7 linked regions of the Homo sapiens genome follow. The protein of the gene in region 5 purifies or fractionates together with the protein of the main gene of each other region. This does not show direct contact. Each region holds a gene or a part of one and is shown on either strand. Other genes may lie near its edges.

Evidence for each region.
Region 1: the proteins of SLC35F4 (region 5) and AGRN purify together in Homo sapiens (affinity purification with mass spectrometry; one large-scale study listed by BioGRID and IntAct). This does not show direct contact.
Region 2: the proteins of SLC35F4 (region 5) and LRRC47 purify together in Homo sapiens (affinity purification with mass spectrometry; one large-scale study listed by BioGRID and IntAct). This does not show direct contact.
Region 3: the proteins of SLC35F4 (region 5) and SMARCA2 purify together in Homo sapiens (affinity purification with mass spectrometry; one large-scale study listed by BioGRID and IntAct). This does not show direct contact.
Region 4: the proteins of SLC35F4 (region 5) and U2SURP purify together in Homo sapiens (affinity purification with mass spectrometry; one large-scale study listed by BioGRID and IntAct). This does not show direct contact.
Region 6: the proteins of SLC35F4 (region 5) and IQGAP2 purify together in Homo sapiens (affinity purification with mass spectrometry; one large-scale study listed by BioGRID and IntAct). This does not show direct contact.
Region 7: the proteins of SLC35F4 (region 5) and DIAPH1 purify together in Homo sapiens (affinity purification with mass spectrometry; one large-scale study listed by BioGRID and IntAct). This does not show direct contact.

What each region holds. Positions count from the first base shown.
Region 1 is NC_000001.11:1,040,620-1,044,119, reverse strand, and holds part of AGRN (agrin isoform 2 precursor), read right to left. Parts: intron 3,456-3,500; coding exon 3,240-3,455; intron 2,948-3,239; coding exon 2,723-2,947; intron 2,643-2,722; coding exon 2,418-2,642; intron 2,345-2,417; exon of another isoform or gene 2,324-2,344; intron 2,165-2,323; coding exon 1,958-2,164; intron 1,944-1,957; exon of another isoform or gene 1,372-1,943; intron 882-1,371; coding exon 663-881; intron 583-662; coding exon 388-582; intron 298-387; coding exon 97-297; intron 12-96; coding exon 1-11. UniProt on the Homo sapiens protein: Isoform 1, isoform 4 and isoform 5: neuron-specific (z+) isoforms that contain C-terminal insertions of 8-19 AA are potent activators of AChR clustering.
Region 2 is NC_000001.11:3,782,999-3,786,498, reverse strand, and holds part of LRRC47 (leucine-rich repeat-containing protein 47), read left to right. Parts: intron 1-1,295; coding exon 1,296-1,412; intron 1,413-2,387; coding exon 2,388-2,503; intron 2,504-3,500.
Region 3 is NC_000009.12:2,021,847-2,025,346, forward strand, and holds part of SMARCA2 (SWI/SNF-related matrix-associated actin-dependent regulator of chromatin subfamily A member 2), read left to right. Parts: intron 1-98; exon of another isoform or gene 99-271; intron 272-3,500. UniProt on the Homo sapiens protein: ATPase involved in transcriptional activation and repression of select genes by chromatin remodeling (alteration of DNA-nucleosome topology).
Region 4 is NC_000003.12:143,036,070-143,039,569, forward strand, and holds part of U2SURP (U2 snRNP-associated SURP motif-containing protein), read left to right. Parts: coding exon 1-35; intron 36-1,109; coding exon 1,110-1,266; intron 1,267-2,038; coding exon 2,039-2,134; intron 2,135-2,824; coding exon 2,825-2,891; intron 2,892-3,500.
Region 5 is NC_000014.9:57,859,593-57,863,092, forward strand, and holds part of SLC35F4 (solute carrier family 35 member F4), read right to left. Parts: intron 1-3,500. UniProt on the Homo sapiens protein: Putative solute transporter.
Region 6 is NC_000005.10:76,675,785-76,679,284, forward strand, and holds part of IQGAP2 (ras GTPase-activating-like protein IQGAP2), read left to right. Parts: intron 1-1,433; coding exon 1,434-1,566; intron 1,567-3,500. UniProt on the Homo sapiens protein: Binds to activated CDC42 and RAC1 but does not seem to stimulate their GTPase activity. Associates with calmodulin.
Region 7 is NC_000005.10:141,612,501-141,616,000, reverse strand, and holds part of DIAPH1 (protein diaphanous homolog 1), read left to right. Parts: intron 1-3,500. UniProt on the Homo sapiens protein: Actin nucleation and elongation factor required for the assembly of F-actin structures, such as actin cables and stress fibers. Binds to the barbed end of the actin filament and slows down actin polymerization and depolymerization.

The sequences.
Region 1 (3,500 bases), on a different chromosome or scaffold from region 5:
ACCGCACTCGGCTGCGGGGAAGGGGAGCAGAGTCACCCAGGGGCTTCTTGTCCAAAGCCAGAGCCCAGCAGTTTTCGCCAGCGTCCCCCGGCCTACCCTGCTCGCACGGCCCTGCCCGGGCCTCCTCGATCTGTGTCTGCTGGAGGCAGGCGGCTTCCCGTAGCTCGCAGGCACTGCCGTAGGTGACACCGTCGCTGCCACACACGGGGCCGGGCGGGGGGTGCTCACACCGGGGACACACACACTGCCCTGCGGAGCACACAGCCCCAAAAGCACACACGGCATCTCCACAGGTCTCTGCAGGAGACAGAGCCAGGCAGGGGTCGGCAGGCCCAGGCTGAGGGAGGCACAGGACCCTGGCCCGCCCGGCCCCAGGGCCTCACTCACCACAGGGTCCAGCTGAGGCCACGTGCAGGCTGATCTGGTGTGTGCAGGCGTGCACGTGCAGCATGCACTCGCTGGGGTACGTGTGCCCGTCGGAGCCACACACGGGCTGGGCCAAAGCCACGCATTCAGAGGGGCACACGCAGCGCCCGGTCTCGGCCTCGCACAGGGCTCCAAAGCGGCACTGCCCGCAGCGGTCTGGGGAGGAGCTTCCATCACCAGGCGACCAGGAACCTCTCTCTCCCCGACCCCCACCAGACCCCTCACCCGCCACTGACCACAGGGTCCTTTGCGCGCCACCTGGATCTCCCGCCCGAGGGTACAGGCCGTGGCCTCCAGCTCGCACGCGCTGCCGTATGTGACGCCGTCGCTGCCGCACACAGGATCGTAGAGGCTCGAGCACGCCTGCAGGCATTCACACGCTGCCTGCCCGTTCTTCACAGCACACGTCGCCCCAAATGCACACTGCACCCCGAGGCATGGGGACGGGGCCTGGTCTGGGAAGGACACAGGGGCTCAGTGGTCCCACAAGCCCCCCCTCCGCTGCAGGCAAAGCCCCCAGCCCCACGCAGCAGTCCCTCTTCCAGGGAGGGGATGGTGGAGGAAGAGAGAACACAGGAGAAGGGCCAGATGCACAGCAGACACGGCAGAGAAAGGGACAGACACGCGGCAGAGGCGAGCGGAACACACACCCAGGAGTCCCCGGTGGCTGCGGGCGAGGCTGCCCCCAAGCTTGGGGCTTCCTGATTGTCCACAGCAGGCTATGGGAGGGCCAGGCTTCCCCAGCCTGCCCAGGCCACTGACCCCTGACCACCAGCATCCCCAGGACACCCATGCATGTGGGGGGGCTCTCTGTGGGTGGGAGGAGCCTGCACCCCCAGAGTCACACCCAGGGCTGCACGGGGGAGGAGGTGTCTGTCCACTTGCTCTGAGGACCACAAGGCCAGGCAGCAGCAAGCCACCCCCCCTGCCGCACCAGGGGCAGACCTCGGGCTGCGGGCTCCTGGAGGGCAGGCACGGCACCTCATCCTGCCAGCAGGTCAGGCTGGAAGACACAAGAGGCGGAGCCGACAGGGAAGAAGAGACCAAAGAGAAGAGACAGACGCAGAGAGAAAGACCAGAAGATGGGCGAACTGACCAAGACGAACACGACGGGACACGACGGCCACTGCCTCCCCCTGGCCCTTCAAGTCCTGACACTGCCTCCAAAACGGCCGACGGCTGCCCATGTCCCAAGAGTGAGGACCCTGGTGTTGTGTCCAGCCTGCCCACCCCAACAGCCTGTGCTTACAGCGTGGAGACATGCGGACAGGCCAGAGGACTCCCAGGGAGGGCGTGGCTGAGGTCAGGGACCAGGGAGCCTGGACAAGGCCCCGCCTCTGCCTCACCAGCCCCCAGGTATCCAGGTACCCTCCGCACACAGGCTCCACCCTCCCCAGAGCCTTCCCAGAGGGACCGGCCCACTCCCAGGACCCCAAGAGGAACATGATGGATGAAGATGGCATGTGATGTCCAGGCAGGGACTGACGCAGGAGCAGCCCACCCCGCCTGGCCTCCACCCCGGGGCGCTCACCACACGGGCCCTGGTGCTTGCTGGGGATGGCACGCTGCTGCCGGCACTCAGCCTGCTGCCGCCAGCAATCACTGTCATACGTGCGCCCGTCCTGGGCACACACGGGCCTGTAGGCCCCGTCACAGGTGACGCGGTCGCAGGAGCAGCGGGGACGGCCACGGCGGGACAGGCACACGGCATTGAACCGGCAGGGCTCCGGGCACTGGTCTAGGACGCAGGGGTGAGGGAGTCACGGAGAGGCTGGAGCACCCTCCATCCCTGCCCTGGGATGTGCAGGGAGCAGGGGAGCAGGCGGCCCTCCCAGAGGGGAGCCGCCCACCTCGACCCTGGCACTGGCCGCAGCCCTCCCCCGGGGGAGCCGCCCACCTCGACCCTGGCACTGGCCGGAGCCCTCCCCCGGGGGAGCCGCCCACCTCGACCCTGGCACTGGCCGGAGCCCTCCCCCGGGGGAGCCGCTCACCTCGACCCTGGCACTGGCCGGAGCGCACTTTCTGCAGGAGGAGACCCCGGGCGGCCCCCGATCGGCCCATGACACAGTCGTTTTCGTAGGTGACTCCGTCGTCCCCACACACTGGCGCCTGCCGGGCAGGGCAGCTCTCGGGCCGTAGGAGCATCTCAGGGCGCCGCGTGCGCGGGTTCACACGGCAGCTGCGGCTCGGGTCAGGGAGGGCGCCCTGACAGGGGTCTGGGGGTCGAGGGCAGGAGTCAGGACGCTGTCGCCGCGCGCCCACAGAGCTCGAGCCGTGCGCCCGCCGCCGCGCTCACCACAAGGGCCGTCGAACTTCTTGAAGACATTCTCCTGGCGGGCGCAGGCGCGGCGCAGGAGCTGGCACTCGCCGGGGTAGTCGGCGCCGTCGCTGCCGCAGACGGTCCCCTCGGGGGCGCCACGGCAGGTCGCGGGGCACAGGCACGAGGCCGTCAGCCCGTCGGCCGAGCGCGCACAGGTGCTGCCGAAGCTGCAGGTCACGTTGGAGCAGGGGTCCCGCGAGCCTGCGGGCGGGGCTTTGCCGGTCAGACGGGCCGCCCCCGCCCCCGCTCCCGCCCCGCTCCCGCCCCGCTCCGCCCCCCAGGCCCCTCCCAGCCCCGCTCCTCCCCGCCGGGCCCCGCAGGCCCCGCCCCCGCTCCCGCCCCGCTCCGCCCCCCAGGCCCCTCCCAGCCCCGCTCCTCCCCGCCGGGCCCCGCCCCTGCCCCCGCCCCACTGGCCCCGAAGCCCCTCCCAGCCTCGCTCCATCTCATAGGCCCCGCCCCTCCCCGCCCCAGGCACCGGCCCCGCCCCGCTCACCGCACGGCCCGCGGCTGAGCAGGCGGATGCGGCGCTGCTGGCTGCACTGCGCCCGCTGCAGCTCGCATTCGTTGCTGTAGGTGGAGGCGTCCGACCCACACACAGGCGCCACCACGCTGGGGCACGGGCTCTTCTTGCAGACGCAGGACGCCCGGCCCGGCCCCTCCGCGTTGGGCTCGCACACGGCGCCGAAGCCGCACAGCATTCCCCGGCACGCTGGGGCGGGTAGGGGAGAAAGCTCAGGGTGCCGAGACGCCCGTA
Region 2 (3,500 bases), on a different chromosome or scaffold from region 5:
TTAAGGAGTCTCGCTTTGTCTCCCAGGCTGGAGTACGGTGGCGCAGTCTAATCTCACTGTAGCGTCCGCCTCCTGGGTTCAAGTGATTCTCCTGCCTCAGCCTGCTGAGTAGCTGGCATTACAGGTGCTCACCATCATGTCTGGCTAATTTTTTTGTATTTTTAAAAGAGATGAGGTTTCACCATGTTGGCCAGGTTGGTCTTGAACTCCTGACCTCAAGCAGTCCACCCGCCTTGGCCTCCCAAAGTGTGGGGATTACGGGTGTCAGCCACCACACCTGGCCTATCCTAATTTCTGGATAGCTTTATTGCAGTTGAAAATCAGGGTTCCAGCTGGTGCGGTGGCTCACGCCTGTAATCCCAGCACTTCAGGAGGCCGAGGTGGGTGCATCACCTGAGGTCAGGAGTTTGAGACCAGCCTGGACAACATGACGAAACCCCATCTCTACCGAAAACACAAAAATTAGCCAGGCGTGGTGGTGAGCACCTTTAATCCCAGCTACTGGGGAGGCCGAGGCAGGAGAATCACTTGAACCTGGGAGGTGGAGGTTGCAGTGAGCCAAGATTGCACCACCGCATTCCAGCCTGGGTGACACAGCAAGACTCCATCTCAAAAAAAAAAAAAAAGGAAAATCAGGGTTCCTTGATTTTTTGATATTTTGGTGGGTTTTCTGACTTCTGCAGTAAATCACACATTTTGTTTTATGTAAGACAGTATTAAAGTCATCAACTCTTGCCAGCACATTCTTCTGTGAATTGTTTAGGTTTTGGCAAGACTAACTTCCCAGTTGCTTTTCTGTGACACCTGACCAACTTTTAAAATATAAAGCACCTCTGTGCCCAGGGGAAAGTCTCGTGCGCCCCGCAGTGGCAGCGACAGAGCATGGCGGGCCGAGAGTGACTGTCGTGAGAGTCCTGCCTGCAGCTTGGGGAGGAAGGGAACAGGCATCACAGCCAGGGCTTTACAACTTAAAGCTCAGCCTTTATTTACATTTTAGTTCAAGATGGGTTCTTTGAAATCTCAAATATTATGTCAGAATTAGAGAAGGAAGAAAGTCTGCTGATTGATAGGTTAAGATAGTTTTCCTGATGGTGATTCCACAAAGTGAGTGCCTGGCTGGCCGGGTGGAGAGGAGTTGGAGGGGAGCCCTGTCTCGGAAAGGGGCGTGGCGTGGTTGTGAAGACCTTGGACCGGGAGGGTTTCCTGGCACACAGCCCAGCCAAGGGTGAAGTGTGGACACCTCGCTGGGCTTCAGGGCACAAGAGACCTTGCTCATCACTGCTTCTGTGTTACAGACCAAGCTCCACGAAGATCTCTGTGAGAAGAGGACGGCTGCCACCCTTGCCACCCACGAGCTCCGTGCCGTCAAAGGGCCCCTGCTGTACTGCGCCCGGCCCCCACAGGACCTCAAGGTGCTGCAGCCTCCTTTGCAGGGTCTGCTGAAGAGTCTCCTTGGTGTCGAAAGACGCCATGCTGCTACTGCAGCCCGAACTTTTTTTTTTTTTGGAGATGGAGTTCCATTGTTGCCCAGGCTGGAGTGCAGTGGCACAATCTCGGCTCACTGCAGCCTCTGCCTCCTGGGTTGAAGCGATTCTCCTGCTTCAGCCTCCCGAATAGCTGAGTTTACAGGCATGTGCCACCACGCCCAGCTAATTTTGTATTTTTAGTAGAGACGAGGTTTCTCCATGTTGGTCAGGCTGGTCTCAAACTCCAGGCCTCAGGTGATCCGCCCAACTTGGCCTCCCAAAGTGCTGGGATTACAGGCGTAAGCCACCGCACCCGGCCTGAACATTTTCTTTAGAGTAGGATCCGATGCTGTTCTTGCAAAGACATGAAATAATGAAACAGACCGCGTTTGCGGTTACTCGAAGCGGTGCACAGCTGTGAGAGGACTCGGCGGATGAGCAGTCGTTGGGAAAATGGTTTCCTTCACTCGCTCACTACCTTTTAATCAGAAATTTTGGTCTCTGTCCCGATAGTAAAACCGTTTGCGTGGGGTTGGCAGTAGGGTGAGTTGCTGTGTCGTGCTGTCCTGGGCTGTTGAATCTGTGGAGTGCACGAGGTCCCGGCTGCTCAGCCTTTCTCTCCTCTTTTGGCCTTCTGAGGATGGCAGACCTCTGGAAACAGTTGTGCATGAGCTGGCTTTAAGGTTAAGCCCTGCCTCAGTAGGATCGGTGTGTTTGGGCGTCAGGTCTCCCCGGGACGCTGCAGTGGCAGCCCACATGCAGCTTCTTGCTGCGTGGTCCCGTGGGATGCTCCCTGCCTGCTGTAGAGATGAATGAGGGCGGGAGTCGGGAGGGCTCATTGAGGCTTAAGGCCGTAATCGACACGATGGGCGAGTTCTGTGGCTGTGACCCTAGTGGAGTTTGTGGGTTTCTGCCCGATAGATTGTCCCCTTGGGGCGGAAAGAAGCCAAGGCCAAGGAGCTGGTGCGGCAGCTGCAGCTGGAGGCCGAGGAGCAGAGGAAGCAGAAGAAGCGGCAGAGTGTGTCGGGCCTGCACAGGTGGGCAGCGTGCCTGGTGGGGTGGGGCCGGGCCCGGGGGAGTGCCGCATGCTGGCCTCAGCTGAGTTAGTCTGTGCTCCTCAGGAACCGCCTAATGCTACCAGAACCCAGAAGCTTCTTAACAGGGTACAAAGAAAGCATTCTCTTTCCAAAGGAGACGTTGTGGAACCAGTCTGTCATCTAGATGGCCCTGACGTGAGGGAAGTGGAAGGTGTTAGGAGCGGAGGTATTGGCCATTCCACAGGGGGCGGGTGGCCCTCAGGATGGGACAGGACAGGATATAAACTAGCCATTAGGAAACAGACATAAATGCCAGCCCAACCCACAGCATTTTATCCATACCGTGCGCTGTTGGGTATCATCCAAGTCAGGGTCCTTGGTGCTGCTCTAAGCAAGATGATCATCCGTAACTAGCCCAGTGATTTCTGTAAACACAGGCTTCAGAATACTTTGTTCTTTGAAGCTTGTTATGCTTGGGCCCTTGATATTACACTTAATTTGTGTAAAGAACTTTTTGAGTCGTCCATTTTACCCTTTAGGTATGTTTTCAGGTGTGTGCTTTTTTTTTTTTTTTTGAGATGGGGTCTCACTCTTGTCGCCCAGGCTGGAGTGCAATGGCACGATCTTGGCTCACTGCAACCTCCACCTCCTAGGTTCAAGCGATTCTGCCGCCTCAGCCTCCCGAGTAGCTGGGATTACAGGCGCCTGCCACCATGCCTGGCTAATATTTGTGTTTTTAGTAGAGACGGGGTTTCGCCATGTTAGCCAGGCTGGTCCTGAACTCCTGACTTCAAGCAGTCTGCCTGCCTCAGCCTCCCAAACTGCTAGGATTACAGGCGTGAGCCACCACGCCCAGCTGTGCCTTTTTTCTTTTTTTTTTTTTTTAAGATGTGGTCGCGCCATGTTGCCCAGGCTGGAGTGAGGTGGCTAATCATAGGCGCAGTCCCACTACTGATCAGCACCGGAGCTTTTTGTCCTGCTCTGTTTCTGACCTGGG
Region 3 (3,500 bases), on a different chromosome or scaffold from region 5:
TTTCTTGAGCTGATGGGGTAGATAAGGTCTTTGAGATGGGATAAGGTTGCTGTAGGGGGAGGGCAGAGGTGGGGGTGGTGGCATCTGAGCATCCCAGATCAGAAGAAAGCCCCGAGATCACAGAGACCCGGCGAGATCACAGAGACCCGGCCTGAAGGAACGTGGAAAGACCAATGTACCTGTTTTGACCGGTTGCCTGGAGCAAGAAGTTCCAGTTGGGGAGAATTTTCAGAAGATAAAGTCGGAGATTGTGGAAAGACTTGACTTGCAGGTTAAAGCATGAATATTTTATCCAATCTGTATTGGAGGCTTGTCTCAGAAGTTTTGAACAAGGGAATACATGAACAAAGCAATATTTTAGATTAATCTGGCAAATTGTGGATTCAAGTCCAGAGTGGGAATTGAAGCTGTTAGAAGGATCCTGGCAATAATGCGAGCATATAGTAGCTCACAAGGTGTCTTCATATCTCATATTTTATTTGATTCGTATCAAAATTGAAGTTGTAGTCAGCTACTGTTATGCCTATTTTGTAGGTAAGGAGCTTGAAACTCAGAGAGGTTAAATGAACTCATTTGTTGATTTTTTAAAAGGCATAGTAACATCATTAATGGCTATTATCCATTTTAACTGCAATGAACTTGGAGTTCATTGTTGAATTGTTGTTGCTACTGTGAAAGTCAGGGCCAGTTGACATTAATGAGTGCCTATGATAGAACTTTAGTTCATTCAGCATATGATGGTTGAGTTTTACTCTTCAGTAAAAATGTGCCATTTTAACCACAGGTTTTTAAAGTATGTATTTCAGACTCTTCTTTTTATATGTTTAAAGTATAAATAAACTTATCTTGGCAGTCAGAAAAGGAAGTGGCTGTTGTTGATTCTTATCAACATCCAGAATGAGGTTGCTTTGCAAAAGGGCCTAACCTAGGAGAGACAGGCATATGTGTAAATATACGTGACATATTACCTTTCAGGGTGTCATGATTTGAAACTAACTTTTTTTTGTTCAGTTTGTTAGCTTTTGTTTTGACCAGTTTGCCCAGCCCTTTGGGTTCCACTGAATTTTAAAAGTGATTTTCATCTGTGATTACCTTTATAACTACTAATGGACATGAGTCTCAGAGTAGAGGATGCTTTGCTCTAAAGGGTTTCTAACACTTAGGTTTTCTCGTAAATTCCCTTTTTAAAACAATTTTTCCTTTGTGGGATCACTGTCAGTCCTCATGGAAGAGGCCATGAAATTGCATCGCTGGTAGACTCTTTTGAGATGGCAACTCATGGTATCTATAAGGGTGGTAATGTTAAGAGCCAGGATCCTATTAAGGCAGTGTCTGAGGTTCATGGGGGACTAATTAGCTGCTGCCGAGTTTGTTGTTATCTTTTGTTGTGCACAGAGCTGCCTCACAGCCTTTGCCAGGTCTGACTCTGGGCAAGGACCATTCCCAAGGCAGTTTATTTAAAGTGAGGGTAGCAGCTCACCCACATCCTAATTTGTTGCCCTGATTGAAAGATGAAGGAGAGTTCACAGAAGCCCAAGGAACAGAGCAAAGTTTTAATCTAACAACTTTTAAAAAACATATTTGACTTTGAAACGAATGGGAAAGTGTTGTGAATAACCCCAAGAATGCTGAAGAAATGTTCTCAGTGATTTTCTAGGGTCTTGATGGAGCAACTTATAAGGTTAACTTTAGAACCCGGTGTGATTTGTATCTGACAGATCACATTATGCATTGTTTAAAGTTGCACAGCTCAGACCAAGAAGCAGTGTGGGCCTTGGTAATGTTTCACCGCTTATCCCGACAACCTTGGCCTGTAAAAAGGAAACTTCGGGTAGATTTATTTCCTTTATCTGCATTGCTGTTCTCCTTACCCACCCCGCACTGCTTCCCCATTAAGAATAACAGTGCTTGAGGCCCAGTTCTGAAGATGTTGCTACTTCTTGTGGGTGAATTATCAATTCATTTACAGAGAAAGCCACATACAAAACAAGAGGCAGCCCTTCAGGTCAGGGGAGATGTTCTGAATCAGCAAACAGACATAAAAAGAACTCTTATCTTAACTATCTCCTGAACCTTGCAGTTCTCCTGTAACAGCCAGAACACTTTAATAAGACTGGGATATTCTTGGAGATGTGGACTGGGCCTAACTTTTATTTCTGATATTCCACCTTTAACCTGGACCTCCAAGTTTTTCTGTAAAGTGAGCTGTGAAAAAAGACAGGCTGGAGATCCAAGATTTCCTTGTGCTTTCTTATGAAGTTTGGTGAAGAGCAATTTAAGAGATATTGTCAAGGTTGGTGTGCTGCCCCAAACTCTGCGACTAGAAACCAAAAGTTTCTAGGGAACTTTTTTTCTTTTTTTTAAACTTGAAGGCCTTGCTGAAATGCTACCTTCTCCATTACACTTTACCTAATTCCTTTCTCTCCTGTAACCTCTGAGCTAAAGGTAATGTCTCCCATTCTATGACTGTGTTGGATAGTTTGGCTGTACCCCTCCGTGTCCTGCAGGATCTTTCAATATTTTTATCTTGTTGCTACTTACGCACAAGTCTGATTTCCGTATCAGACTTCCAGAGTTGTGGGGTAAGCCTTCTATTCATTTTTGTACCGCCTGCATGCCTTGTACCTAGTAGATACTCGGTATGGTAACTAAAACATCATCGACCTTTTCAGTTGATGACATGGTCTTCTTTTCACATTCCAGGGCTTCTCTTTACTTCTCTAGCCTGTGGTAAGTTAATATATTATCACAACCAAAGCCTAGTCCTTGCAAGATATCCCTTCCACTGTTTCTGACCTTTTTTTCTTTGGCTTCTACTTTCTACCCCTGCACATTGCTCTGGCCTGGTGAAAACTCTGGTGGAAACATGGCTTGCTAGATCCGTGTCATAGCTCAGTGTTGGGCTGGGAGTCAAGGGATAAAAGATTCTGCCTGCGGTTTCTCTCCTGTTGCAGATGTTACTTTGGGCAAGCCATGTTTTCCCCTTCTGCCTTATTGCCCTCATCTTTTCAATGGCGTTGTGGCAAAATGTCTCTTCAAATCACCAGAATTATTAGGAAACACATGTAGGTGTGTTCAAATATTACTCCACATGTGGGGGTCTTTGGTGTTTCTGTTGGTTACAATTAGACTGTAAGACACAAGTTTTGTCATGGTTGGAGTGGTGACCCTTAAAATTCCATGAAGTTGAACTCCTTTTAATATGCAGATGGCTGTGCTGAGCCTTTCAGCTAAGGGCAGAGGAGATTTGGGCTGAGGGAGGATGACTGTGGTGTTTGGAGCTCTGGCAAGCTCCTCTGGGGCCTCTTCTTTTTAAAAACACACACTCTCTAGTTGTGAATGTAGGAAAGTGGGAAGTAAGGACGAAATCAAGACAGAGTATACTGCTGAGAAATTCTTGCCTAAGAACATAGTGGTTTGGCCCTCGGGGAGTCCTGGTCTGGGGGAGGGTGGGGACCAGCAATGCATGTGTATGGGGAGGTTGCTGTGCCCCCCTCTCC
Region 4 (3,500 bases), on a different chromosome or scaffold from region 5:
GACTTGTAAATATTATTGAAGAAAAGGAAACAGAGGTAGGCAGTCTGTATTTGTCTGGTTGTTTTTAAAATTCGTTTCTGGGGTGGAGGTTTCTTGGAGTTGTTCTGTGTTACATATGTGAGGTACATTTCTTTGTGAAAAATATCTATTGCTTACCATTAAGTAGTGGATTTTTATTGCTGGAACCCAGAAGTCAAAATTACATGTAACAGGAATTCTCTGTCTTGTGTCCTTATGTGAAAATTGGTGAGTGTTTTTTTTATTTAATGATATAAGAGTTATGATATATTGTTAATAGTAGAAAATAAGCAAGTAATAGAGCAATATGTATAGCATGACTTTATTTTGTTAAAGATAGCTATATAAGTAAAATATGTGCATGAAAAGATGCATCACATGATAGCAGATATACATCACCATTCTGTTGTTTTTTTTCTTTTTTACCTCCTAAATAATTACTGAATCCTTAATGTTTAATTCTGCCATGCTAGTCAAGCTATTATGTTTTCACTTTCACTCCTGCAGGATCTTCCTAATTGGCCTTACTGTTGCAACCCACGTGGTCCTTGTTTCAGTTTCTTAAATGTGTGTTTCCACCTACCATTGGACTTTGTACATGTCCTTCCCTCTTTCTGGGACTTATCTTCACCTGAGATCCTTCAGATCTCAGCTCAAACATAACCTTAGCCTTCTCTGACCTCTTTAAGTGAAACTTAGTATGCTAATAGTATGATACGCCCTTTTGCTGTAGCAGTTACCATAGTTACAGATAAGTATATATTGTTGTGATGATCTGATTTCCTGGTTCCCCCACCCCTGCAAAACAACAGCAAAAACCTTTACCAGGCTCTATAACAGGGGGACCAAACTTGTTTTTGCTCATCATTGCCTCACAAGGTACCTGGCACCAGTGAGCACTTGGTAAATATTAGATAAATGCACAACTGACTGCTTCTTTAGCAAACTGGATGATAGAATATGTTCTTACATTGTACCTCAGATTGTGGGTATCCAGTTATGTTGGCTTGTACTGGATTACAAATTAATCTTACAAGCAATGTGACTTCAGCAAGCAAAGGAAAATGTTATAATAGTACACATTTCCATAGGATGTTCCAGATGACCTTGATGGTGCCCCCATCGAGGAAGAGCTTGATGGTGCACCTCTGGAAGATGTAGATGGAATTCCTATTGATGCTACTCCCATCGATGATCTTGATGGAGTCCCTATAAAAAGTCTTGATGATGATCTTGATGGAGTGCCTTGTAAGTTCAGATTTCAAACTGATTAAATCTAGCTAATACATTTGGTGACCAAAACTCTAATTTCCATACATGCTGATATGGAAAAAGGTTATAGTTTCTCATGAACGTATCAAGTTATTAACTTTTCTATTTCTGATTTTTTTCAAAATTCATATACCCAGTAATACATTTATTTGTATGCTATGTATATAAAAGGCCAAGAAGAAGCATTTTTTTCTGGTCACATTTCTTTGCTGGGACAATCAGCCTCCTATAATATTAGCAAGTTTCTCTTTTTGTCTTGTCAGGAAATTATAGGCAAAATCTTGTGCTCAGTTATGCATGATCCTAGGTACCTGGTTTTATCAGTTTTTATTAGTTTTTCTAACTTACAACTTCAGTTTTCCTAGCTGCCTAAAATCATTTTGAAAATAGGAACTGTAGACAGCTCTTTGGTACATTTGAATTATATGTTTAAATATTGAATAATGTATGCAGTTTTATATTTCAGAGATTAGGTAAAGATATTAAAGATTTGTTTTACTTCTCAACTTCTTCACTTGCTTAATATATTACTAACCTGTATTTTCTGAATTGATATATATACTGTTAAAAATATTGCCCTCAGATGCAGAGAATTGGTTTAGTCATAGTCCTTGTTCTTAGTATTACTATTTGTCCATCTGTGTCCTTATTTTACTTTGCTTTTTAATAATATGGTGAATACCCATGAATGTAATACTTCGGGTCATCCACTAGTAGTCAGGGTTAATGGCTTATCTTTCCCTAATAGTGGATGCAACTGAAGACTCAAAAAAGAATGAGCCTATATTTAAAGTTGCCCCATCAAAATGGGAAGCTGTGGATGAATCTGAATTGGAAGCACAGGGTGAGTAAAAGTAAAATAAATATTTTTTAAATTAAGTACTTGTACGTTAATTATTGGTGTGCTTGTATATATGTTTTCCTTTTATGTTTTATAACACGTTTTAACCTTAATGCTCAATGTTGTCATATTTTGTGTCTAATGTATGCTTTTATTGTGGTTGGTGTTGCTGTTACAATTTTCTTAGGTCCTTCAGTTTGGAAGCTTTGAGAGTAATGAGATATCACTGAAAACCTTTCAGGTTAAGGCATTTTAGTAGCAAATGTAGATTGGAAGCTGTACCTACGTAGAAATCTACATAGAGGTCAGTTTCATAGAAACCAAGCTTTGACCCTCCCATAATGCTAGACTGATTAGATGCAATTTAGACCTGTCTTTCACACTTACTTAGACCTGTATCCTAGTGCTAATAATCTAATTGTTGCTATTTGTAGGTTCTAATGAAATAAATCTTAATATTCAACACAGAAATAAGGATGACATTATTCGTCACTTCATGAATTTGAATTATATTGTAGGTGTGAGGAAAGAGATTTGGCATATAGAAATAACTATTTAGAGAATTGATAAACATAGATTAAAAAAACTTCTGTAATATAAACTTTTCAATTCTAAAGCTTGAGCTTCCACTGTACTACTGAAAAAATGCTAGTTTACCTCGTGGAATTACATCCTCCTTTTCCTTTCATTCAGCTGTTACAACTTCTAAATGGGAATTATTTGACCAGCATGAAGAATCAGAAGAAGAAGAAAATCAAAAGTAAGAATCTAAGTTTTGAATATACTGTTTCTTGTTCATATACACTCCCCTTTTCATTAAGAGATATAGTTGAAATAATAGTGAAGTGGAAAACTTCACTCTTAAAAAATTTTGGGAGAGGATCATTTTTAGTTCTCCATTGGTTTTCCAGTGAATAAAGAGCTTTTGTTTTCTGGTCTTGATGGATCTGGTTTCATTTTGCTTTTGAGTTTTTTACGCTAGGTTATATTCTCACTTTGTAGTTACTAATTGGTCAACTGCATTTTTTTCAAACCTTTGCCATCAAATACTGTTTTGGGCTCCATAAAAAGTGGTTTTTAAAATGTGAATAGGAAAGGTTATACTCCTTTCTTTTGGATTGTACATTCTAAGAAAAAGATTGCATTATGGCCATTGTGTTATTTAAATATAAACCTTTCAGAAGAACTAAGAATGAATACAAAGGAAAAAATCTTTTCTTTTGAAATATAGAGAAATAATAATTTTGATTTTGCTGTTTGGTAATCACCCCAAAATTGTTTTTGTATTTGACACTGTGTGGTTGTAGGAATCTCTCCTCTCAGATTCTCCTGCAAGTCTGTATTGGCAGTTTTTAGGAAGTTCTTGACA
Region 5 (3,500 bases):
GAAAAATTACTTCAGGTATTTGATTAGGGGTGTGAGATGAACACATCTGCACTGTAGGGAAGTAAATATTTTTAAGGTGCGTATGCTGGATTGGAAGGACTTGAGGCTGGGCAAAAGATGCGATGGATAGAAGGCAGTGATCGCAGGACTGGAAAACACATATCTGGGGTAAAACGCACAGGATTCATTAACTGATTATAGGGCAAGGGGAAAGGGCAGAAGCTGAGGATAACTCAGAGTTTCTGGCTTGGACAATTGGTTTGATATAGACATTAGAAGCTGAAATGCATAATGAGAAGGAAAAGGCACATTTTAAGGACAGAGTGATGATTTTGGTTTTATGTGTGACATGACTGGAGGACATTCAGGTAGAATGTTCGAAGGAATTTTGAAATACAGGTGTGGGTTCAGAAAAAGTGGGCCTAGAATTACAGACACACCAAAGATGGTAATGCCATGGGATTAAATGAGCTCACTCAGGGAAGGCAGAAAGTGAGAGGACACAGCTGAAGCTAGAACTTTGGGGAATGCTAAGTCATAGCAGCCGTCCAAGCACCCAGAGAGCCAAGAGAGCCAGAAGCGGGTAGAGTTCTTTTTGAAATGGGGATGATACCAGAGCTGGTACCCAAGTAAAAGGGAAAATATTTACTACAAATTGCAGCTTCCAATAGACAACCATCATAGAACCTGATCACTAATGGAGTATAGAAAAAACAAAAGGCCAACAGGTACAAAGGCACAAAACAAAGAGAGGCAACTGTTTACCAAAGGTGGGTGAAGAGAGGCGAAGTAAATGCACTCCTTTACTGATACCTTTCCAGGGAAGGTGGGACTGTTTGGAAAGCTGTCAAAGCTGACCTACTGCATGGCTGTTCTAAAACAGTGATTTCAACTCTCTTTTTCACAGACAAGAAAATCCATGTCCACCAAGAGGTGTCCCAGGTCTCAGAGCCAGTTGCTGGCAGGTTTAAGGATATAATTAATTTCCAAACCACTAGGGTTTAATTCAACCATACATCAACACACTGTTTCCCTATACAAACACACAAAAAAGAATACTCACCCCAAAAATATCAATAATGGAATACAATAAAACATGAATGAATTTATCCTTTCATTTGACTTATGGAAATGAATTAAATTTCTTATAGCATACAAACCACCACCTCCTACCTTTCCAGCTAACTTCCACTAGTCTTTGATTCTACTGAGACCTCTAATTCATGGACCCTACCATCTGTTCCCTGTCCCTAATTATCTAGATTTCCTCTTCTCTGCTTACCAGGTTTAATTTCCATGATCAATCATTTTATTAATACAACTCTTTTGTATACAACTCCGTTGTCCCTATTTTTTAATACCCATTGGATAATCTGTAACTCTGGTTATATCCTTATCTCTACTTGTTCTATGCCTTTACTGTGTTAATGAATGAGCCAACCTACTGGCTGGTCTTACTTTAAATTTGTGACCAAAAACTTTAAACGGACCCTTAAGGCTGCCAGACAACCTGAGCGCACTTCCCCAGTCCATTCACTCTCCCTATTTGTTTTAACTATTCATACCTTCTCTATCCTCCAGCCTCTACCATGTCCTCCACCATCCTCACTCTCATTTGGTGATCTCTCTTTCTACTTGGAGAAGACTGCAGCAACCAGAAGAGAACCTCAACAGACTCCCACCATCTCAGTTATACACTTTCCCAAACGGGCCCCACACACCTTACCCTATATCCATGTTCCTATCTAAGGCAATGTCCCTTCTCTTGTGTACTAGTTTCCATACACTATCTCTCCAACTTCATTAATTTTTCTTTCTCTATTGAATCATTCTCATTTGCATGCAGACTTGCTCTTATTTCTCCAATCTTTAAAGAAAGAAAAACTTTCTTGAGCCTGCTTCCTCCATTTCTTCTGCTCCCCTTTGCACAAAAATCCTTGCAGAGTCATCTATACTCACAGTTTCCAATTCTTCCCTCTAATTCTCTCTTATACACATTCTAATCCATTTTATCTATCCTTATGTGCTCTTGTCAACATTCTTGTCAAGATCACCCATGACCTTTAATTGTCAAATTCAATCGGTCTTCTTTTTACTTGACCTTTCAATAGCATTGGACTCAGCTAAACTCTTCCCCTTCAAACTCTTTATTTACTGGCTTCCAGGGTAACACATGTTCCTGGTTTTCCTCCTATCTCCCTGGATGCTCCTTCTTGATCTCCTTTGATGGTTTTCTTCTTCTCCTGAACCTCTTAATGTCAGAATGTCTCAAAATTCAATTCTTCTGCCTCTTCTCTTCTCTATATGCATTCATTCCTTGGAGGTCTCATCCAGTCTTAGGCCTTAAATACCACCCAAGTACTGGCAAATCCTTAATTTATATCTCCAATCAGACATCTACTCTGAACTCTAAGCTTACTCTACATCTCCAATTACATTTAGTATCTCTAAAACGTTATCCTTATCCCCTGACAATCCACCCCCCACCCCTTTCCAAAGTTTCTCTACCTTGAAACCTTCCACACTTCAGCTGATGGCAACTCAAACTTAGTCAAACCAGAAAAGATGCAGTCATTTTTTACTCCTATCTTTCTTACAGATACCATATCCAATCTATCAGGGTACCCTATTGGCTCTAATTTCAAATATATGCAGACTCTGACCACCTTTCTCTTCTTCTAGTGCTACAACTCTGGTTCAAGCCACCATCATGTCTCACCTACGTTATCACAATAACATACTAATTAGGTGTTTTCACCCTGTCCCAGTACAGCAGTGAGACTGATCTTTGTGTAAGATAAGTCACATCACTCTTCTCCCAAAACTCTTCAAATGCTCATTTCATTCAGAATACAAGCCAAAGGATTGACAATGACCTCTAAGGCCCTCCTTTATCTGCACTCCTGGATCCTCAGTGACCTCATCTCCAACCACTTTCCCAATTGTTCACTCCACTTCAGCCATACAGGCCTCCCTGCTGTTTCTCCAGCATGCTAGTTGTACTCTACCTCAGATCTTTGCGCTAGCTATTCCCACTGCCCAGAATGTGTTCTTCTGGATGTCCATATGGCTAACTCCCTCATATCCTTCAGGTCTTTGCTGAATTGTTACTTCCTCAGTGAGGACTTCCCTGATGAGCCTATTTAAAATTGTGATAATTTCTACCCCCAGAATATTTTATCCTTTTTATCCTGTTGTAATTTTTCAAAAGGCACTTATCACCTTGAAACATACTAAATAATTTATGTACTTGTTTATTTCTTTATTGTCTTGTTTGCTCCCACTAGAACTTAAGTTCTTAAAAGGAAAATACTTTTGTCTGTTTTGCTCATTGGTGTACTCCTGACACATAGGAGGTGCTCAATTAACACTTGTTGAATGAATGAATCTATTCCCTACCTAAGTAACCACACTATGCATTAATCATCTTTTTTAAAAAAAATGTTTAAATAAATATAGAAACAGTGTCTCACTACATTGGTCAAGTTGGTCTTGAACTC
Region 6 (3,500 bases), on a different chromosome or scaffold from region 5:
TCTTTTGTGAGAAAATTGCCCCAAATCCTCCTACTACAGAAAGTGTTGATTTTTCAAGCTAATTTTTCATTCTCCTCACTGACTAACAAAGTAATATCCAGGCTGGGCAACATAGGGAGACCTCATCTCTACAAAAAATTTAAAAAATTATCTGGGCATAGTGGTAAGCACCTGTAGTCCCAGCTACTCAGGAGGCTGAGATGGGAGGATCACTTGAGCCTTGGAGGTCAAGGCTGCAGTGAGCCGTGTTTGTGCCACTGTACTCCAGCCCAGGTGACAGGGTAAGACTCTGTCACACACACACACACACACACACACACACACACACACACACACACAAAGTAATATCCATTTCCCACATTTCTCATGAACTTTTAACTGCTGTTATTCCTATCAGTCATTTATGTTCCCACCTATTCTTTATTTAAAAAGAAACAAGACCAAAGAAGTGAGCCTCTTCTAAACTTGTCCTTTCTTCCACTCATATTTATCCTTTGTGTTTCTCAGAAATCTACAAAAAATTATAACCAAAGCAGCATAGGAAAGCCGACTGTTACATGGGAACATGCTCCCCACAACAGGGCTCTGCTGTTTAACCTCCCCCAGCCTCTGGCTGGGAAAGCAGAGGTCATTTCTGGTACATAAGACCCAGGTGCCTGTAGGAGAGATGCCGACAATGATTTCAGGCATATGAAACATTTACAACTTTATAGAATAAAATGTATATTCGACCTGCACAAGAATTGTTTAGGCAAAAAATACATAGAACTATTCAACTGTGATCACAGCATGCCTCACTTCTCTTGATCTCTGTCAAAACTTGCTTTAGCTTAAAATAGACTTTTTAGGGTCTGAGTCCTGGGACATGTTATGTATTTGGGTGTCTAGCCTTAACAATCTTTCCATCGGCCAGCAAATATTTGCAGCAACGAAGAAGAGTAGACTTAATCTCATTTTTGTCAAACTGGTAACAGAAGCTCTGAAGGGTGATTAGGGTGATGTAGGCCCAGGAGCCTGTGCTGTTTAAAGCAGCAAATTTGACTAATTGCTTTTTTTTCTATTGTATTCCTCACACAGACTTGATTCTTAGATCAAGAATTATCATTTTTGACTTTTTAAGTTTCAGGGACCATTTTTAAAATAACATTTTTAAGATGACCTACGCATAGGTCACTATATCACTAAGTCACAAACAGGGCCTGAGGCCCTTGCCACTCTCTCCAATCCTGTTTGAGGAGCTGGGTCCAATATCCAGAAACATGGATGCAGCTCCGACAGCCAGGAGCCAGCCTGGAAGAAGCTGTAACACGTCCTCTCAAGGTTTGAGATGGGAACAAAGTACATGTCATCATTCAAAATTTCCTAGCTATTTTGATGAAACTGTTTAATGCACATGTTTGAGTCTGTCTTAAGACTTTTCCCCCCTTTATTAGGAAATATTTCAAAGAAGCATGTAATGTCCCTGAGCCAGAAGAGAAGTTTAATATGGACAAATACACAGACCTGGTGACAGTCAGCAAACCAGTCATTTATATTTCAATTGAAGAAATCATCAGCACACACTCAGTAAGTGGGGATGGGGAGCCATCTTAGCAATGGACCCATGATTTAGGCATCTGTTATCTTGAAAATGCTTAATCTCTACAGGACTTATTGTACACATGTGCTAATACTCATATTCTTAACCCTAAAAATCTCGCAATTATTTATTCCATGACTCTTATACATTAATAAAACTCCTTCTCCCAAACAACAAAATTCTATTTTTACATAATTATTCCCTGACTCCTAGACATTAATAAAACTTCTCCCCAAAAAAGAAAGTGTACTTTTGGCATAATCCATTTACAAAGCCAGATTGTGACTGGAATGGTGGCATATGCCTGTAATCCCAACACTTTGGGAGACTGAGGCAGGAGGATCACTCAAGCCCACAAGTTTGAGACTAGCCCGGGCAACATAGTGAGACCCCTATCTCTACTAAAAATTTTTTAAAAACTAGCCGGGTTTGGTGGTACATGCCTGTAGTCACAGCTACTTAAGAGGCTGAGGTGGGAGATCACTTGAGCTCAGGAGTCTGAGGCTGCAGTGATCTATGATCGTGCCACTGCACTCCAGCCGGGGCAACAGAGCGAGACCCTACCTCAAAAAATAAATAAATAAATAATAAAAATAAAGCCAGATTGTAAATATGCAGTTTAAGCCCTGAGCCAGGACAGGCTATGGTGTTCTCATCCGCCAAAGCTATGCTATGTAGACCTACACCCTGTCTCTCCCCTCTTCCAGGAACCCTCTCAGCTTTTCCAGTAATTTTCTGGGGGAAATGAGAATATTCTTTTTATTCTAATGTTTTAACATAAAGTGGTAATAAACAGGCTACGCAACGAAAACAAGAAACTACCACCCAATAGTAGCCTTCTGCAAAGAATCACTTCCATTGTTCTGGAAACCCCCATTTCTCGGAAGCAGGCAGTTTTTCACATCATGTGCTGTGTTATGACATCTACATCTGGTTTGCATGCAGACATCACTGCCGTCAGCCATTAGCATGTATTAAGTATCTGTTGGGTGCAGGGCACTGTGCTCAGTGGCATGGGGAAGGAATTGGGAGGCTTTAGATGACTTTTCAAACATTAAAATTAAAAAAAAAAAAGCTAAGCATTGAGGGGTTTGCATTGTTTTCTTTTTAAGATCAATTGGAACTTATTTCATGAAAAAATCTTGGTTTTTAAAAGGTAACCATTTCAAGAATAGTTTCAGACCTTGTGAGTTGAAGCAAGGTCCTGGGGATATGTTAGCAATGCACCCTGGACCTCCCAAATTAGAACCTGCATTGTAACAAGATCCCAGAGGATTCAGATGCACATTCAAGTTCTAGATGCTTCAGTTAAGGATGCACCCAACTTTGGATTATACAGAGAACCAAAGGGAAAGCATAACAAATACACATTCTCAAAGGTTGTGCTCTAGCCCCCATCAAACCAGACATACTGACAAGTGGCAGGTTAGCTGCTTAAAATTTCAGTCTATTATTAAGCTCTTCTAAGAAACTAAAGCTTGAATGTAGGTTTGAAGGAAAGATTGAATCTAGTATTGATTTTCTTCTTTCAGGGTTGAAACAGGGAACTTCCCTGACATTTACATCAAGCTCTCAATACATACTGATTAAATGAATAGGCTATCCTTCTTTTCTCTATATATGAACACCCTAGATTACAAGGAAAACTGTCCAGCAATCTAGCAATGCATTACTTACAGAAATAATTATCTACTGGACAGACTCATTTATATTTGAGCAATGACCCATTTGTCTGTTTTTGTGGTACATTATCTGTCTTCAAAGAATATGTACATCTTGGGTGCACATTTGCTGAATGCAATATCCACATGCGAAAAAAATGGTGGGGAGTACTTGTTTAGAGTGAGAGATTCTTTCCCAAGGGTAGCAGAGAGAAAATGTTACTGTATTAATTTAGAAGTCTTAGAAGTCTTTAAGGAGA
Region 7 (3,500 bases), on a different chromosome or scaffold from region 5:
GAAAATAAAAATTTTAGGTGAACAGAGGGTTTTCTGACTTTTCAGCAGTGATCAATGTGGGTGTCAAATAGACTGATTTCCAAAATATACGTAAGGGGAATAAGTAGAACCGGGATGTTAGGAGGCTGCAGAGTATTCTTACATTTAATAGACTTTGTATGCACTCTCATATAATCGAGAAAGTGATGCATTGTAAGAGAGAATATTGCTTCCTGATTTAACTAGGAGCATTAGCGAGAATTTTTTTTTTCTTTTTTTGAGATGGAGTCTCGCTCTGTTGCCCAGGCTGGAGTGCAGTGGTGCAATCTCAGCTCACTGCAAGCTCCGCCTCCCGGGTTCATGCCATTCTTCTGCCTCAGCCTCCCCAGTAGCTGGGACTACAGGCACCTGCCACCACGCCTGGCTAATTTTTTTTGTATTTTTAGTAGAGACGGGGTTTCACCGTGTTAGCCAGGATGTTGTCGATCTCCTGACCTCGTGATCTGCCCACCTCGGCCTCCCAAAGTGCTGGGATTACAGGCGTGAGCCACCGCGTGCGGCCCTTTTTTTTTTTTTTTTTTTTTCTTTTTCTGAGACGAGTCTTGCTGTGTCCAAGGCTGCAGTGCAGTGGCGCGATCTCGGCTCACTGCAACCTCCACCTCCCGGGTTCAAGCGATTCTCCTGCCTCAGCCTTCCAAGCAGCTGGGATTACAGGTGTACGCCGCCACACCCAGCTAATTTTTGTATTTTTAGTAGAGACTGGTTTCACCATGTTGGCCAGGCTGGTCTTAAATTCCTGACCTCGTGATCCGCCAGCCTCAGCCTCCCGAAGTGCTGGGATTACAGGCGTGAGCCACCTCGTCCGGCCAAGAGAATGATTTTTACTATTATTAAAATTATTAAAATTAGTTTAATTTTGGATTCCTATATTGAGTTATGATCATGTTGCAGTTACACGGTCTTCTAAATGCAAAGTAATAGAGTATAAATGTTTAGTAGTAGACTCCTGTCCAAAAGGAGACAAATTAAAGGATGCCAGGCAGAAAGAAGTGGAGTTGTTCGTGCAGATTTCTGCTTATATCCTCTTAAAACATTAACTTTAATCCAAAAGTTTGCAGAAAACTGAAAAATATACAGAGAGCTTTGCAAAAGTTTGCAGAAAACTGAAAAATATACAGAGCGCTTTGTACACCTTTTTTTTTTTTTAACAGATGATGAACGCAAGGATTATATAGTTTGGAAAGAGGGAGGGGAGCCTACAGGAACGTTAGTGAGATGTTTGAGATGACAGAATGGTAGCTTAAAGATTTCCGCCATTCTTCCTGCCTTGTCTTAAGGACAGATCATGAGTCTACTTGGTATGGTTACCTGTACTTTTTCAAAGAAAATTCTCCCTCACAGGAGGTGAAAGTGAGGGAATGCCTTAGAATTAAAATCTCTGCCTTGGGAGAGTTGGTAAATTTTTTTAAAAAGCTGAAAATTTTATGACCCGTAAATTATGTTTATTATGAAAGCTAAGAAAATAGTGAGACATGATTTAATTTTGTTGATGGGTGCACGGGTCAGAATAATTTTATTTCCTGTGTCTTAGAATCACCTTTTGTTATTCCCCAAGGCCCTTGGTATTTTATAAATGTATTGCCAGGCTATTCTCAGGGAGTGTTATATATCTTCCATGAAATGTAATAGAGATTTAAAAGATAAGTTGTATGTCACATATGATTTAGAAGAACAGGTTAAAATAATTTTTATTGATAAATACTAGATGTTATAGAGAAGCAAAGAGTTTGTATATGCAGGTTTATATATCCCTTTTTATGTCCCAGTAGCTGAAATTATTTATGGCTACAAAAATCATCCCCATTTTGAAACAAACTTTGTATTACTTAAGTGGTTTTCTTTTTTCATTGAGCCTCCTTTTCTCAATTACCTTTGTTTGAAAGCAGTAGGCAAAAAATTCATTTTATGCTACCAGCAAAGCATTGGATGTTTGCCCCTCCTTGGGGTTAGGTGAGACAAAGCCACACTCTCCCCTTGCCTGGCTGCCTGTCACCTCCTCCCTGTGTTTTTATTCCTTTCCTACTTACGTGGGGGCTGATTTGAGCGCTATGAATAGCCAGGCCTTTGGGGAATTAGGGGCAGTCAGAAGCTGTTGATAATAAAATTTCTTAAAACTTTTAAGCTAAAATTGAAAAGTAAAGAATAATTACTATGAACATATTTTACTGTATTTCTCCTTTTTTTTAACACGTTTCTTAGGATCAAGAAACCCTTTTTAAGGAAGTAAAAGAATTACTGAAGGAAAAGAGAAATAGACTAATATTTTAATGAATTTTACCACTGATTACAAGATAACTCTCATTGTTCTTTCAACTTTGAAATTCTTACTTCCATCCATTATTAAATCTTACTGTGAATGGTACCCTTAAAACTTCAGAGTTGGAAGGGACTTTAAATGTCATCAAGTCCAAACACCCACTCAGTGCAACAGTCACTTCTGCAGTTGTAGGTTGGAAACATCAGGGGGCTAAGAGGTGGAAATTGGATGAACAAGTGGAGGAAGAGGAGCAGAAATTTTGGATTCTACATTTTCTTTACTAAATTTTAGGATCTTGGGAATGGCTGGAGTAGTAGAAAGAGATTATATAAAAGGAACAGATATACTAGAAGCTGTGAGATTGAAAGGAAAAAGATTGAAGAAATTGGCTCTCTATTGCTTGGCTCTGTAACAGTTAGGGAGAGTCAGTTTGCCCTTTAAATATTTGTTTAAATTTCTTTCCTCCAAGGCGGGGGATAGAACAGATAAGGGGATGCAAATGAGAGTTAGCATAATGGAATTGAATTAAAGGAAACATTCTCTTATGGAGGATGGGAAAATTCCATCCTTGGTGGTGGATATGACTGGTCCTTAGTAGCTATCTGGGAATTTTGTTAGGGTGGCAAATATAGGTAGAATTTATGGTGTCCTGTATAATTTTCTGGATTTCTGATTTTGTGACTTATTTCCTGTCTTGTGAGTAGTGTCATCTGAAGGCTTTGGATTTGTAATTTCTTTTAAGATTTAAAATACTGTAAGGACCCAAGACAGGATGATTTATAAACCATTTTTGATACTGAAGGTCACAGAAAACCAAAGAGCATACGTTGGTAGTTGGCCTTACATCTCAGATCTGTCTGTGTTTTATTTTCAGTGTCAGAACTTTAAGATCAAGTAGAAAAGATACCCTTCATCTCTATTTTTACAGCATTATTGATATATAATTAAAATACAATAAACTGCATATTTATTCATGAAACCATTTCTATAGTCAAGATAATGAATATAGCAGTCACCTTCAAGTTTCCTCCTTCTCTCTTTGTTATCCCTCCCTCTCACCCATCCTCGTCCTCCCATCTCCAGATTACCACTAATTTTCTTTCTGTAACTATAGATTAGTTTGTGTTTTCTAGAATTTTATATAAATGGAATCATACAGTATGAACCCTTTTGCTGGGGCTTCTTTTATTGTGATGTGTGGTCT